Linked DNA regions of Homo sapiens: region 1 is linked to region 2. The links come from fine-mapping of genetic effects on gene expression. Tissue or cell type: blood mononuclear cells. Region 2 holds a variant in brackets; the other region holds the start of a gene. All regions are shown on one strand. Distances are between the middles of the regions.

Region 1 (8,000 bases), 88 kb before region 2:
CTTGAGTTAAGGAGGCAGAGGTTGCAGTAAGCCAAGATCATACCACTGCACTACAGCCTGAGTGACAGTGAGACCCCATCTCAAAAATAATTAATTAATTAAAATTTAAGACTCAGTTCTTCAGTCACAATAGCTAGATTTCAAGTTGCAGCCACAAGTGGTTAGTGGCTTCTGTATTTGATAGCACAGATATGGAACCTTTTTCTTTATCTCAGAAAGTTCTATCAGACAGTCCTGCCTAGAGGCATTGACCCTCTCTCCAGAATATGCAAATATGTACTCATATTAAAAATGTTGTAGGCAATTTTAGGTGATTCAAAGACACTCCCCACTTCCTAAGCCCACCTCCCCAAGGTGTTAGGAACCCCTTTCTGATGTGGGTGGGGGCTGGGCATAGTGGCTCATGCCTGTAATTCCCACACTTTGGGAGGCTGAGGCGGGCAGATCACTTAAGGTCAGAAGTTTGAGACCAGCCTGGCCAGTATGGTGAACCCGTCTCTACTAAAAACACAAAAATTAGCCAGAAGTGGTGGCACATGCCTGTAGTCCCCACTACTTGGTAGGCTGAGGCAGGAGAATCTCTTGAACCTGGGAGGTGGAGGTTTCAGTGAGCCGAGATAGCACCACTGCACTTCAGCCTGAATGACAGAGTGGGACTCTGTCTCAAAAATAATAATAATATGGATGGGGAGCACATGACTCTCCTAAAGTCTATGGAGGAGGCAGGTATCAGGAAAATCTCAGTTCAGATGTCAGTAATCCTTTTCCCTTAACACACAGTCTTAAGCACCTGCTGGTTCCTTGAGAGTTTAAAAAGAAACCTAGCTGTTCATTACATTGCCCCATTCATCCTGTTAGTTTCATTCATTCACTTATTCAATATTTATTGAGCTCCTACTTTACGCTCATACTGACCTAGGCAATGGGATACAAAAGTGAACTCAATGGAGAAGATCCCTTCCCTCATGGAGCTTATATTCTTGTAGGACAGAAAGACAACCAACAAACAAGCAGGTAATGCTCTCTGCTCTATAAACTTAGTTTTCTCCAATTAATTTCAAATCTATTTCTGTAAGCCTGAACATGTTAATTCTCTGCTTAAAGACATTCCCTCCTGACTAGGAGAGTTGATTAAAACCACCTGTGGGAGTTAAAGATCTACATCTGCCAAATGCACTGAAGGTGATCCACAAACTAAATTAAAATTTGGCCACTCTCCAAAGTCAAGGCCATAATCTACCTTTCTCATGAGACAGTTCTGTCTGTAAATAGTTGGGATTATAACACCCTCACTTTCAAGGTAAATTCCAGGGTATTTTATCTCCTAATTTCCAGATTGTTTTTGATTGTGTAAGCACATAGAAGACCTCACACCAGGTAAAGTTTCTAAAGTTTACTTCAAGCTACCTCTGTTACATGATTTTTGCGTGGGTAATCCGAGATCTGCTTCTTAATTGTCAACTCCACTTGGAATTGTTCCAATGTTTGCCAGTGTTCTGTTATGTTCTTTTCTCCTTGTCCAGCTTAATGACAGCTGTTTTTCTTCAAAAACAATGTTTCTTCAAAAATAATGTTTGGGTAAGGCCCGAGTTGGGATGACATTTTCTCTTAATATAATTTGCATTCTTAAAATCAAACACATTACCAGCAGATTGGCTTAACTGAACACATGCACGTATATATAAGAAACCATGTCCTTTCTTTCCTTGACCCAAAGTTTTGTATTTCACCACACTGGCCAACTCCCAAAAGTTGAACTGAAATCAAAGAATTGGTTCATTCTAAGATGGCTGGATATATATATATATATATATATATATATATATATATATATATATTCATCTCTATCTATCTTCCTCCTATTCTTTTTCCCATATCACACAAAACACAAACACAGACACATTCTGGGTTTACTTGGTACTGCCAGTCCTCAGGCTGACTAGAAGACTGAGGAAAATTTGAAAGACAAGAGATCTATCTACAGTCTTTCCTAACTTCCTAGTCCCTTTACCAGATTTTTCCATGAGGATTTGTCTTCCTTTTTTCCTTGAGGAAGCCAACTCTTGAGGGCTACAAAACACTTATTTCAGCATGTGTCTCTAAAAGATAAGAACATTTGATAAATATAACCACACTACCATTACCACATCAAAAAAAAAAAAACAGTTATTCTTTAAGAGCAAACATCGAGGCAGTGTTCCTAATGGTTTCATAATGTCAAATGTTTACTGGCTTTTTAAAACAAATTCAAAATACACATAAGTTCCACACCTTGTAATTGGTTATTATGTCTTTCAAGTCTCTTTAAATGTGTAGGTCTTCTCTCCATCTCTTTCTTTCCTTGAAACTTATTTATTAAAGAAACTCAGTTGTTTGTTCAGAAGCATTTCCCATGGCTGAATTTTGCATAATATATCTTCATGTTGCAGGTCAACATTCACAGGATTCTCAGATTCAGTTGGAGGCATGTTTGATTATCTACACTTTAAGTCATCAAGTAATTTGAATATATTAATATAAATCCCATAGGCTCTTTTTCCCACTCCAGATGATTCCTCCAATAACCTTTCATTCAGTAAGTTCCCCGTTGTAAATTTCCAGTTAAGTAATTCTCTTTAGGTTTGATGGGTGCGCACAACGAAGAAAAGGGGGGACAGGGAAACCTTTCTGAAATTCATTTCCTTTGAATATATCCATTAGAGGGCGACATTGCCTTTAATATTATATTTCCCCAATAAAGTTTTAAATTGCATAAAATTTACTTTTGTATTTTTGACAAGTTGGACCTCATTGCCTACTTTAATTTCTAATCTCACGTCTGTAAAGTGTGACTGCATTCTCCTTTGTTAGTTTGATCTCTGCTGACTTGCGTCTTTGGTATTACAGTACTTCCATCTTTGACTCTGTTCCCAATTCTAACCATCGGGCGGCGATGTTGCATAAATAAAGACCCGCGGAAAGGCAAAATTAAGCGAAACTGCCAAATAAAAAGCAGTTTCACCGGGGGTAAAGGCCATTAATTTAAGAAGGAAAGAGACAAACCAGACATTTCTAGTTCATATCCAACTCACGGCCCAAGGTCAGAACTGTGTAAAATGCAACACAAAGGAGCCATTCAGGAGTGGGGGAGGCTGACTTGGGGAGAGCGAATGCACAATCCCCGCCTTGAGCCTGCGGTTCCACTGGAGGGGGCACAGGTCCGTTTGCGCACGTGCGTGTGAGTAGCCACAGGGCAGCGGCGGGACATGCCTGCACCGGGCATGGGACTGCTGAACCAACAGCGCTCTGGCGGACCGTTTGGGACACCCGCCCGGAGGCAGGTTGGCACTGGCGCTGCCTGGAGGTCAGCCACTCATTGTACCCCGGAGGAACTGGGTCCCGCGGGGGCATACGGCTCGCCCACCGGCACGCGTTAGGAGGCGAACACCTGCATCCAGCTAGGTGTTCCGAGCTCAGCCCAGGGCGAGGGACTGCTCTGCCACCTTCTTCTCATTCTTCCTGTAAGAACACTGTCTATCTCGGACAAAAAGGACCCACCTGACAGCAAGTGGTATCGTCACACAGAGGTAACAGGGAAGTCACGGATCCTCTTGAGAATCTGACAAAAGTTGGTGCCCCTTCCCCATAGTGGCACTCAGAAAACTGCAGGTGAAACCACAAATGGGCGGAGGCACTCACAGGCTTCCTGGGGCCCGTCCATTGATCAGATACCAGGTTAAGAAATTCTGTCCTTATTGGAGCCTAGACGGCAGCGCAAAGGAACCAGACGGACTTGGAAAGAGAGGCAGGGACTCCCTCCTCCCTCCAAACACAGCCAGCGTTTCATCTCGGATTGCGGGAGGGGCCTGGCGGAAGGTGGAGGAGAGGTGGAGCGCCTGGATGGGGCCCTCCCCATTCTCCTGGCCCCAACCCCAGGACGCCTGGCTGCGGAGGGCTCGAAAGCGAGCAGCGAACGCCCAAAGCCTGGGTGGCGGGAAGGTGGCAGCGCCCTGTAGCTTTTCCTTTGCATTTTTCTTTAAATCGTGAGCTCCGGAGCTATCGTTTCGACCGCTGCTTTCCGGTCTCCACCTCCACCTCCCAGTTGGCTGGCTCGCCCTTCCCCCACCCCCCCATCCCCCCCATCCCCCCCCATCCCCACCCCCATCCCAGCCGCGTGCCCGACCCTCGGCCTCCAGCCCCGCCTCCTTCGCCGCGGGGTTTAACCCGAGGCAGAGTGAAATCTGCATAGTGACCGCCCCCTCGGAGATCATTGGTGCAGCCCCGCCCATCGCGGCCGGTGATTGGTAAGCCGCCCGGGGTTATTTGCATGTCGGACGCAGCCGGGTACCCAGCTGTGCTGCCGGCCGGCGCAGCGCAGAAGTTTGCAGAGCGCTTTCTCGCCGGCTGGTCCCGGACTCGCGCTGCGCCCTGCGCCCTGCGCCGCCGCCTCCTCCTTCTGCCGCCGCCGCCCTGTTCTCCCGGGATTCCTTCTCTGTGGAGGACTGACTCTCTGCTTGTGGGAATTAGAGGTGGACAAGGGGGAGTGCCGGGGGGTAGCGACGGGGTTCTTTCCAGTGGCAGCTGCGAGTCGGGACGCCGGGAGCGTGGGGCTCCTGCTGGCCACGGATCTCGGCCACCTTCCCGCGGCCTCCGGGCAGGCAATGCGGCCGCCGAGCCCCGCGACGCAGAGAGGAAGGAGGGTGGCCCGGAGGGCCTAGAGCTTGTTTCTGCCCACTTGGGAAAGAGGGCATGGAGTTGTGAGTGCCCCTCGCTCGGCGACGCCGCCCTCGGCAGGCTCCCCATGGCCGGGACGTACAGCTCGACTCTGAAGACGCTGGAGGACTTGACCTTGGACTCCGGGTATGGGGCCGGGGACTCGTGCCGCTCGCTCAGCCTCTCGTCCTCCAAGTCCAACTCGCAGGCGCTCAACTCTTCGGCGCAGCAGCACCGCGGGGCGGCCTGGTGGTGCTACTCCGGCTCCATGAACAGCCGCCACAACAGCTGGGACACGGTGAACACGGTGCTGCCCGAGGACCCCGAAGTGGCCGACCTCTTCTCGCGCTGTCCGCGGCTCCCCGAGCTGGAGGAGTTCCCCTGGACCGAAGGAGACGTGGCCCGGGTGCTCCGCAAAGGCGCTGGCGGCCGGCGGCTGCCCCAGTTCTCCGCCGAGGCGGTGAGGCGCCTGGCCGGGCTGCTCCGCAGGGCACTGATCCGCGTGGCCCGCGAGGCGCAGCGCCTGAGCGTGCTGCACGCCAAGTGCACCCGCTTTGAGGTGCAGAGCGCCGTGCGCCTGGTGCACAGCTGGGCGCTGGCCGAGAGCTGCGCGCTGGCAGCCGTCAAGGCGCTGTCCCTGTACAGCATGAGCGCCGGCGACGGGCTGCGCCGGGGCAAGTCCGCGCGCTGCGGCCTCACCTTCTCAGTGGGTCGCTTTTTCCGCTGGATGGTGGACACCCGAATCTCCGTGCGCATCCACGAGTACGCAGCCATCTCCCTCACCGCCTGCATGGAGAACCTGGTGGAGGAGATCCGGGCCAGGGTGATGGCCAGCCACAGCCCTGATGGCGGAGGGGCCGGAGGCGGGGAGGTGTCTGCTGAGGCCCTGGAGATGGTCATCAACAACGACGCCGAGCTCTGGGGCGTCTTGCAGCCCTATGAGCATCTCATCTGCGGCAAGAACGCCAATGGTAAGCGCGCGGGCCTCGGACTGGCAGACTGGGTAGGCAAGAAATCCCGCCCTGGGCTACTGGGGGAGTGAATTTCCTGAGACAAAGCTGGTGGCTGTGCCAGTTCTTTGGGAGAAAACGTTTGGTCTGAGGATAGGGTTCATTACATGGCACTTGCCAGAGATTGTTCTAAGGGTGTCTGACTTTTGGAGGGTAAACTTGTGAATGATCTCCATCCTGTTCTGCGTGGCATTGTTACTATCTGCGGGCTGTTCATTGATTGGGTGAGATTGAATCTCTTGACCAAGCCATTCCTGAACCTCTCTTGAAATGAAACTTACTGCCCCGTGGCTCTTTACCGTGATTGACTAGGTCTCTAGCTGCTGTCTTTCCCCAACAGCTGGTTAGATTGACTGATTCTGCCCCCTAGTTTTCCCCAGCTCAATAGCAGCAACCAAAGGGTCCCAACTTAAAGACCTGAACCTTGGATAAGTAAGATGGGCGGAGGGAAGTGGGAAGCCCAAGATCTGGTGCTGCGCCTTGTGCTTTGCTGGGCTGAAGGATGCTGTCAGGCGCTCTCTTGGGGGATGGAGGGGTAGTGGTTCGCTCTTACCTATATGTGCCCAGGAATGATGAAACCTGGGGACCCCGACTCCCCTTCCCAGAAAAGTAACCACAGATTGTCTCCTGAGACCTGATTTTTCCAAGCTGTCACCAACCAAGTGAGCCATTGGTTAAAACCTTGCATTGTATTAAATGTTCTTTCCTGAAAAGAGTGGTGGCCCATCAAGGGGAAGAGATAGGTAACCGCATGGGGTCAAGTCTGGGAAAGGAACCATTGGGTGGTTGCACTTCCCTGAAGATAGCATGGATTTGGTGCAAAGGATGGAAACAAAGCACATGACCTTTTCCCTGACAATGTTAGGGGGTGTGACATTGCATTCAACTGCAAACTACCTACAAGACTTCAGTTTGAGAAGTCAGCACCATAAACTGTTCAGAATGGTATTATGGTTAAACAGCCTTACGATCTGATTGGAAGGCCATTTGGGGGGCAGCTTTCAGTGGCAAATAAGCAGGCAGTGGAAGAGGTCAGGTGGGGACTGGAAAGGGATAAAAGAAGTCAAAACATGGTTTAACATAATCATAATAGCTGAAATGCAAAATAACCCTTAATGTGTCGTCATTATTCTCAGCACTTTGTATTTAACTCAAGTACTCCTAGCAAGCCTATTAGGTAGGTACTTACTGCATAGTATGATGCCCATTTTACAGATAAGGAAACCAAGGTACCCAGCAGTTAAATAATCTGCCCAACATTACATAGATGTTAAATGGCAAAACTGGAATTTGAATCCAGTTTGAATCCAGGTAGGCCCCTTTAAGGTTCTAGATGCTGGTGGAGAAGAAACAGCTTTGTTTTTCTGGTTTGTTGTTGTTGTTTGTTTGTTTGTTTTTCTTACTGGACTATAGCTCTCAGATCTTATGCTTTGTTTTTTGATTAGCCCAGTTTTCGAGAACAGTTGACATGTTAGGCCCATTTTGAAGACACTCTGTACCAAGCATGGCTTACTTTGACATTATTGGTTTTGTTTTTAAATTCTGGCACTGCCAAAGGAGATGCTGGGAATTGAAGAGCATCTGCTGCTTAATTTTCTTCCTCTTAGGTCAGAGCTAAGGTCAGTCCTGAATCTCAGTTGATGATGTCACAGCTGCTTGTTGTGCCTCACCCTCCAGGTTTGTGGCATCAACACTGGGAACAGCAGCTCCAGGGCAGGAAGTGGAGGGCCAGGGGATTTCCATCTCCAGTGGTCATAATTGAGGGAAAGAGTTCTGTACTTTTGGCTGAGAGGAGGCCCAAACTGAACTCAAAGAAGTAAAGGCAGGCTCCTAGGAGAAAAGACTGAAGACCTAACCCTATAAGCCAAACAAGAATAAGGGTGGAACTGTAAATGCAAAACAAAACAAAAACATATATTCATGCAGAACAGGTGCCCAGCACATTGAGAAGCTTCTCCCAGCTTTTCTAACTGCAAATTGAAATAAGGAAGACCAACTCCCTGCCCAGGACACCCTGAAGATGCGAAGTGGCCAGAAGCTGCTAGAAAACAGATGTCTTCTGCTAAAGGGCTTCCAACCAAAGAACTATTTCTTATCTAGGGTCAGCATTCCTTGGGATTTCCTTTATAAGTTGGTCTTTTGGCACCACCTACCCCCCCACCCCCACCCCCCAGCTCCACCACCACCTTTTGTTTTTTTAAATAGAGACAGGGTTTTGCTATGTTGCCCAGGCTGGTTTCAAACTCCTGGGCTCCAGCAGTCCTCCTGCCTCGGCCTCTCAAAATGTTGGGATTACAG
Region 2 (8,000 bases):
GCCACCGCGCCCGGCCAAATATCATTATTTTTGAGGCAGGGTCTCACTTGTTATAATTATTGTTATTCCTTCCCTCCAGCCTGCTTTAGAGTGATGCCCATGATGCAGTCAAAGGTGTCTGAGTTCCTTTCACTTTTCTAGATCGTTGCCCCAGTACTAGTGCATAAAGGGATGCAAGGTTTTAGGAACTTTGACCTTGAAGCCAGACTGTGTAGCCACCGTCACTTCTCTCTGGGAGGCTGTTGTCAGATCAGGCCCTGTTCCATCCCTCTCCTCGGAGGTCTGCCAGTGTTACTCAGCCATGAAGCCCATCAAGGGGCCACAGTTCAGATGGAGGAGGAGTCTTTAAGCAGAAGACAGAATGCCTGGGGATGCTGTTGTCTGGGGTCAAATGCTGGCTTCGTCCAGTGGAGAAGTGAGTAGAACCAGCCCACTGTATCCCTTCTGCATCCCCTGCCAGCTTACTCTCTGAAGCAGCAAACCTGGAGTCGGTCGAGGTTCCCCAACAGAGAGACCCCGGGCCTTGCAAGAGCAGGCCTGGACAGCCTGGAGTTTTCTCTCAAAATTGTAACATGGGTTTATTCCAAAACAAAGCAACAAAAGTAGACCCCTGGTGTATCCTTGGCTCACTTCCATAAAGCATCACAACCATTAACCAAAGGAAAAGAAGGCCTGAGCCCTGTGGCGGAAGTCAGGCCAAGATTTTCCTCACTCCCCTCCCTTTCTGGGACCCAGGAATAGTAAAAATAGTAAACATAATTATAACAAAAAATTTAAAAAAATTTTTTTAATTTAAAAAAAGCTAAAAATCATGGAATGTTTGCTAAATGTCAGGACGGTTTAAGTACTTTATATATATTAAGTTATTTAATCTTCCTAGCCTTTAAGAAACGCTATTATTGTTGTTTCCCTTTTACAGATTAGGGGACTAGGGCACAGAGCAGTTATGTAATTTGCTTAAGGTCACACAGCTAGTAGTGGCCATGCCAACTTTAGAACTCAGACAGTCTGGAATTAGAGGCTGTACACTTAACCACAGCTCTGAACTGCGTCTCATGATAGTTATCAAGTTGTTATAGAAATAAACCATATATACGATAAAATGATATCAAACTATACATACACAACATTATTCCAGTGTGTATGGTTGGTTGGTTTTTTTTTTTTTTTTTTTTTTTTTGAGACGGAGTCTTACTCTGTCGCCCAGGCTGGAGTGCAGTGGTGTGGTCTTGGCTCACTGCAAGCTCCGCCTCCCAGGTTCACGCCATTCTCCTGCCTCAGCCTCCCGAGTAGCTGGGACTACAGGTGCCCGCCACCACATCTGGCTAGTTTTTTGTATTTTTAGTAGAGACGGGGTTTCACTGTGTTAGCCAGGATGGTCTCAATCTCCTGACCTCGTGATCCACCTGCCTTGGCCTCCCAAAGTGCTGGGATCACAGGCGTGAGCCACCACGCTTGGCCTGCCAATGTGTATGGTTTTTTAGTTTTGCTATTATACTCTAATTGTGTGAGATTTAACCATCTGGGGAAAGTGAGCAAAGAATACACAGGACCTTTCTGTATTCTTTTTTTTTTTTTTTTTTTGCAGCTTCCTGTGACTCTATAATTATTTCCAAATAAGAGGTCAGAACAAAAGCAAACCACAATCAACAGTGTATTGAATTCTTATTGTATGCCAAGCACTGTGATAAACATTTAACATTTATTATTTTATTTACTCCTAACAGCAACCCAATAAGATGTGGGTACTATCATTATCTTTAGTTACAGATGAGGAAACTGAGGGTTGGCAAGGTTAATAAGTTGGATACCATCAATAAGAAGTAGTATGACCACTGGGTAGTACCCACCTAGATTTATTATAAACATCAAATCAGAAAAAGCACCTGGTATATGGATGTTCTGTAAATGTTGATTTCCATGTGTTTGCTTGGCAAGCACAGAGCCCTGCTAGGTGCCATACACAGTCTAGCATTAGCCAGTCCAAGCCTCTGCTGGTTTGGCTCACAGGATGCTAGGGATATAAGGACAAGTACAACATGTTTCCACCATCAAGGAGCATATAGTTGGGGAACAGTGACTTCCATGGTTCCAAAGGCAAGTTGTATGTATGTATGTATGTATGTATGTATGTATGTATGTATGTATGTATTTGAGATAGGGTCTCACTCTGTCGCCTAAGCTGGAGTGCAGTGGCACAATCACAGCTCATTCAGCCTCAACCTTCTGGGCCCAAGCAATCCTCCTACCTCAGCCTCCCAAGAAGCTGGGACCACAGGTGTGTGCCACCATACCCAGCTAATTATTTTTTGTAGAGGTGGAGTCTCCCTGTGTTGCCCAGGGTAGTCTCAAACTCCTGAGCTCAAGCAATCCTCCCATCTTGGCCTTCCAAAGTGCTGGGATTACAGGCATGAGCCACCACTCCTGGCCTAGTTGTATGTATTTAGCATATGAACCCAGAGGAAGTACCCTCCTACCTCAGAGCTCCCTCCCCTGGAGCCAGAGTCTGGATGGTTGGACCCAAGCCAGGCACCTTCCTGGGACTCAAGGACACAGTGAGGGTTTGAAAGAGGGAGCATTATCAATCACCATGTTGGATGGCATCAGTGATTATTATCTTCATTTCCATCAAAGGTGTCTTGTGAAAGGGTGTCATCAAGTTCAATTTAGTCTGAATCAGGACATGGCAAGGACTTATTTTCTATTTCTGCCCTGGGCTGGACCTGTCTTGAATAATTCAGTGTTCATCATCTACTTCTAAAAGCCGAGCTTCCTGCACTTCCCCGCCATCACCCGTCCCTATACAGCTTTATCCAGGGTCATGTGGCTGCTTGTTACTCCCTGTCTCATCTCCATCAAAAACCCACCCATCCCCACCTCTGGCTGCTAGTAAATGAGTGTTTTCAGGAAAGAGAATCAACTTTAGGTATGTAGTACAAGGTATCAGCTGCCTAAAGTCAAGAGGCAGCCCTCAGGGCAAAAGGCGTCACACAGTAGCCTAGGGACATCTTTCAACCTAGCACTCTTTAAAAAAACGAAGAAAACCCAAAACTTGACGATATGCTATCATCTAAAACTTGGGAGAGTCCCTGATCTGGCAACAGCTGGCTAGAGCTGAATAGCATCTGCCCCCTCTAGATAGGCAAATGCTGTTCCCACCCCCCAAACTCCACTTGTTTACCTTGCATGCCTGGTCCCCAAGAGCATCTGGTTGTCAACCTCTGAGGTGGAGGAAGGAAAGCCCTCAGGCTGGGCACGGTGGCTCACGCCTGTAATCCCAGCACTTTGGGAGGCTGAGGCGGGCGGATCACCTGAGGTCAGGAGTTCCAGAACAGCCTGGCCAACATGGTGAAACCCCATCTTTACTAAAAATACAAAAATTGGCTAGGTGTGGTGGTAGGTGCCTATAATCCCAGCTACTCGGGAGGCTGAAGCAGGAGAATAGTTTGAACCCAGCAGGCGGAGGTTGCAGCGAGCCGAGATCGTGACACTGCACTCCAGCCTGGGCAACAGAATGAGACTCCATCTCAAAAAAAAAAAAAAAAAGGAAAACCGTCTACAGTGGTGAACAGATTAGATGTTTTCAAAGATACGTGGGCTATGTTTGATCCTGAAACCATGCAGGAAGCTGCCCACCCACCCTTCTGAGGCCAGTGTTACATCTAGTCCTCTTGGTCGGGGAGCTAGGATTCTAGAGGAGAATTCTCAGCCCTGCATCAACACCCTGACTGCGGCAGGATTTCTGAAAGAGCCATTGGGGGAACTACATGCTGACTTGGATCGTTGTGCATCCGTGCATGAAGCATCCATGAGAAAAGGGCTGGTCTGGAGTGTTTCTGGCTGATGGGTCACCAGATAAGGAGCCAGAAGACGTAAGTTTCAGTCTGGCTGTACCACTTGCTAAGTGGACATTTGACTTGTTTGATTTTCTTATCTGTAAAATGGGGATAATGTCCACTGTGCCTACCAACAGGGTGGATGAGAGGATCGAGTCACGTGATTGTATGAAAATGTTATGAACTGTGGAGTTGTATTGAAAAATTAGGTGGTGTGACAGCTATGGTAGGCTGTGGAAGCACACACAACCTCTCTGAGTGTGGAAATCAGGAGTTGACAAGCTAGGGCCAGTGGGCCAAATCCCATCCACTGCAAATGGTTTTTATATTTTGAAATGGTTGAAAGATAATCAAAAGACAAATGATGTTCCATGGCACATGGCATTTGTGTGAAGTTCAAATTTCTCTGTCCACACATGAAGGCTCGTTGGGACACAGCCTTACCATTTGGTTGCAAGTTGTCTGTGGCTGCTCTTGCTCTACAACAGACGAGGTGGGGAGTTGTGAGAGAGACCACATGGTCCACAAAGCATAAAGTATTTGCTACCTGACCCTTAGAGAAAGCTTACCAAGCTGTGGCCTAGGTCATGGAGGGGCAGAGGCTGAATCCCCTCCCTTCTTTTCCTTTGTTTCTTCTGCCACCCAGAAGTAGGTGCTACTGCAAATGGGTGGCCCAAGCAAGGAATATCTTCAGATCTCACAGAAGCAAATCTGCTGTGACCACAGCAAATCTGCCCTAAACAACAGAGCCAGGAATTTCTCCCAGTTTAATTCCTATCGAGTGCTTCCATCCTCTGAGCTCCAGCTTAGAGGCACTTCCCGATGAAAACCACAGCATTCGTTTGTAAAACCAATCCCCCTTTTAGCAACAACCACAAAAAGAGAAGGGGCTGTTCCTGTCACAGTGGGCATTTCTCCATCGTGTTCACTACCCCAGGGGCCTGGTCAGTGGTGCTTCCTCTCCTTGGCCACAAACTG[G/T]CAAGAAACACAAAGGGCAACTGCTGTTCTGATAAGGCTGTGGGGGGCATCAGCGCTGAATCATGTCCCCCAGAAGATATGTTGAAGTCTTAACCCCTAGGACCTCGGAATGTCACTTTATTTGGAAATAAGTAGGTGTGGATGTAGTTAGCTAAGATGAGGCCCCACTGGGTAGGGTGGGTCCCCCATCCAACATGCCTGGTGTCCTTAGAGTAAGAGGGGCATCTGAATACAGGGTGAGGCACACGTGGAGGATGCATGGGATGTGGAGGGCTGTGTCTAGCAGACGAGGAAGCTGGGAGGAGGCAACGGAAAACTTACCAGGGTCCCAGAGGAAACAGGGCCCTGCCGACACCTTGATTTCAGACTTCTTGCCTCCAGGAGTGTAGCAGAATAAAGTTCTGCTGTTTAAAGCCTCCCAGTTCATGGTACTTTGTTACAGAAGCCCCAGGAAACTCACGCAGTGGCTGGCCCACCCTGCCGGTGCAGCATTCCAATACCCTTCCAGTACCTGTCATTATCCCTGTTCTACAAATAAGGCAGTAAAGGCACGGCAAGTTCCAATGACTGCCTGAGGTTTTGGCTAGTGGCAGAGCAGGAATCAAACCCAGGCCCTCTGATTCCACGCTGCTGCAGTGGATGATCTGGGAAATGTCAGCCGTCCTGTCCCCATCCCTAGCATCCACTAAGAGGAGAGAGTGGGTTCTCAGACTGATGGCATCTTCTGCTTCGTGTTCCTCATTCCAGGAGCTCTGAGGTAGTTATTTTTCTACTGTGAGCATCTGAACTTATTTACTTGACTTCTTAAATATGTACAAGAAAAACATCAGGCCAGACACAGTGGCTCAAGCCTGTAATCCCAACACTTTGATAATCCAAGAGAACCCAAGACAGGTGGATCACTTTGAGCCCAAGAGTTCAAGACCAGCCTGGGCAACATGGAGAAAACCTGTTTCTCCAAAAAAAATTAAAAAGTTAGCCGAGCATGGTGGCTGGCGCCTATAGTCCCAGCTACTCAGGAGGCTGAGGCTGGAGAATCACTTCAGCCCGGGAAGCAGAGGTTGTAGTGAGCCGAGATCAAGCCACTGCACTCCAGCCTGGGCAACAGAGCCAGACCCTGTCTAAAAAAGAAATCTTAAAATAGGGAGCATGTTTTACATACATTTGTGCATTATTTATAATAAAAATTGAAGAGGAGTGAACTCTCATTTTCTTAGCATTTACAGTGTATCTGAAGAATGTGCTTAAGAGATCCTTGGGGAGGTACCCCAAAAAACCCCCGTGTGCAAGGCAATTTAATAAGGGAAGTCTCCAATGTCCTCCTGGAAAGCATAAGAACACTGATACTTCCTTCTCAGATAGCACCTGGTTGGCCAAGTCCTTGTGTAACAAACATAAACGAAATCCACACCAAAAACTGGAGATGATGCACTTTCCCCCACTAGGGTGATTCCTTTTCAAACCTTCAACTCACCCACTGGAGAAGAAACTCAGGTTGCAAGTGAAATCTTACCATTCAAAGTCTAGGATTTTTTTTGTTTCAAATATTGCCTTTTCTCTGTGTTACAAGTATTTTCAAACATGCAGACATGTATTCAGGGCCCAGGTTTAGGGTTTCTCAACTACGGGGATGGAAATGTGGGATGGGGGCAGGGAGTGATGCCGTCAGGATGGGGAAGAGGCCAGGGTTGGGGTCCAGGAAAGAGAATGCCAGGGACCTTCAGAAAGTCAGCAAGACTGAGCCCCAGTGGGGTGTTCCTGGCCAGTTGAGTCTGTCCCTGTCTGCCGTGGTGACCCAGGTTTCTCCATGGAATTCCACCAGCATTGGCTTGCTCTTCTGAGGGCTGCCGCCTCTCGAGCACCCAGAATTTGAATGCCTGGCCTCAGCTACAGAGTACTTGGCCGTCGTGACACATGGCTGGCAGCATCCGACGTGCACGTCTGCTGCTGCCAATAAAGAGAATTGTTTCTTTCTCTGAACAGAGTCCATTTACATTGAGAGAATTTTCCTCTCCTACCTCCACCAGCACTTCCTCCCCGCCCCGCCCCTCCCTCCCCTACCACCCCACAAAAAGGAAAAAGCTTTTGGGGAATTTGTTTTTAGTGGGCTCACTCAAAAGGAGCTTTATGTTTATTTTCTGAGTGGCCTCTGGACTGTTGTGTCCATTTATCATACCTCCCCCGCCTCTCCCTCCCCTCCCACCCACTGGCCCCCATCTCTCCTCTACTCTGAAAACCTAAACTTCATCAAACTGTTCCTAACGACTACCACATGTCTACAGAGGGCACAGGGGGTGGGGGAGGGGGATCTGGGAAATGAAGAAACCCTCCAAGGAGCACAGTAGCGTATTAAAATTCAATGGCTTAGTCATCAGAGTTTTCAGCCCAAGCACCGAAGAAAAATAAATGAATGTTCTGTAACAGTCTTGTGGATCTCGGAGGAAGGGGGTGGCAGGGGAGGGAGAGGAGAGGAGATGTTGTGGTTTTTAGATAGAGGAGTTCATGCTGTAGAGAACAATTAAGGCCTTTGCTCAGAAATAACAAGACACACTACTGTTTTCCTGCTTGCTGGAGGAGTGCATAGTGTCAGGGCTGGCAGGGATTGGTCTGATCGGCCAGCTCTGCTCACGGATGAGGAAACTAAGGCCCAGGCCAGGGATGTGACTTCTTTAGAGTCATATAAGTAGAGGCCAGGTGCAGTGGCTTATGCCTGTAATCCCAGCACTTCGGGAGGCTGAGGCAGGAAGATTGCTTGAGCCCAGGAGTTCAAGGCCAGACTGGGCAATATAGTGAGACCCCATACTTCCGAAAAAAATGTAACAATTTGCTAGGCATGGTGGCATGTGCCTGGAGTCCCAGCTACTTGAGAGGCTGAGGTGGAAGGATTGCTTGAGTGCAGGAGTTTGAGGTTACGATGAGCTATGATCGCACCACTGCACTCCAGCCTGGGTGACAGAGTGAGACCCTGTCTCTAAATAAGTAGATAAATAAATAACAAAAATGAATTCGTGGTAGAGATGGAACTGGATCCCCTCAATCATTCTTTCCTCCCAACTCAGGCAGATCTGCTTGGAGTTTCTGATGGTGTTTTATTCTGTTTTTTGAGATGGAGTTTTGCTCTTTTCTCCCAGGCTGGAATGCAGTGGCGTGATCTTGGCTCACTGCAACCTCTGCCTCCAGGGTTCA

What was found. PIP is the estimated chance that this variant, and not a neighbour inherited with it, causes the effect.
Region 1: ABTB2 starts here. The variant in region 2 is fine-mapped to the expression of ABTB2 in blood mononuclear cells (TOPMed, PIP above 0.99). The same link has a PIP of 0.9 or more in monocytes.

The regions. Positions count from the first base shown.
Region 1 is chr11:34,354,364-34,362,363 of GRCh38, reverse strand. ABTB2 (ankyrin repeat and BTB domain containing 2) reads left to right here and starts at 4,354. Exons shown (of 17, transcript NM_145804.3): 1 at 4,354-5,663. The coding sequence starts at 4,781. RefSeq lists a silencer at 4,169-4,368 and an enhancer at 5,319-5,428.
Region 2 is chr11:34,265,887-34,273,886 of GRCh38, reverse strand. All of the region lies in intron 1 of ABTB2 (ankyrin repeat and BTB domain containing 2), which reads left to right. Among named protein-coding and RNA genes, the nearest start is that of ABTB2, 88 kb to the left of the region's middle. The variant G/T (reference allele first, on the strand shown) is at 4,815.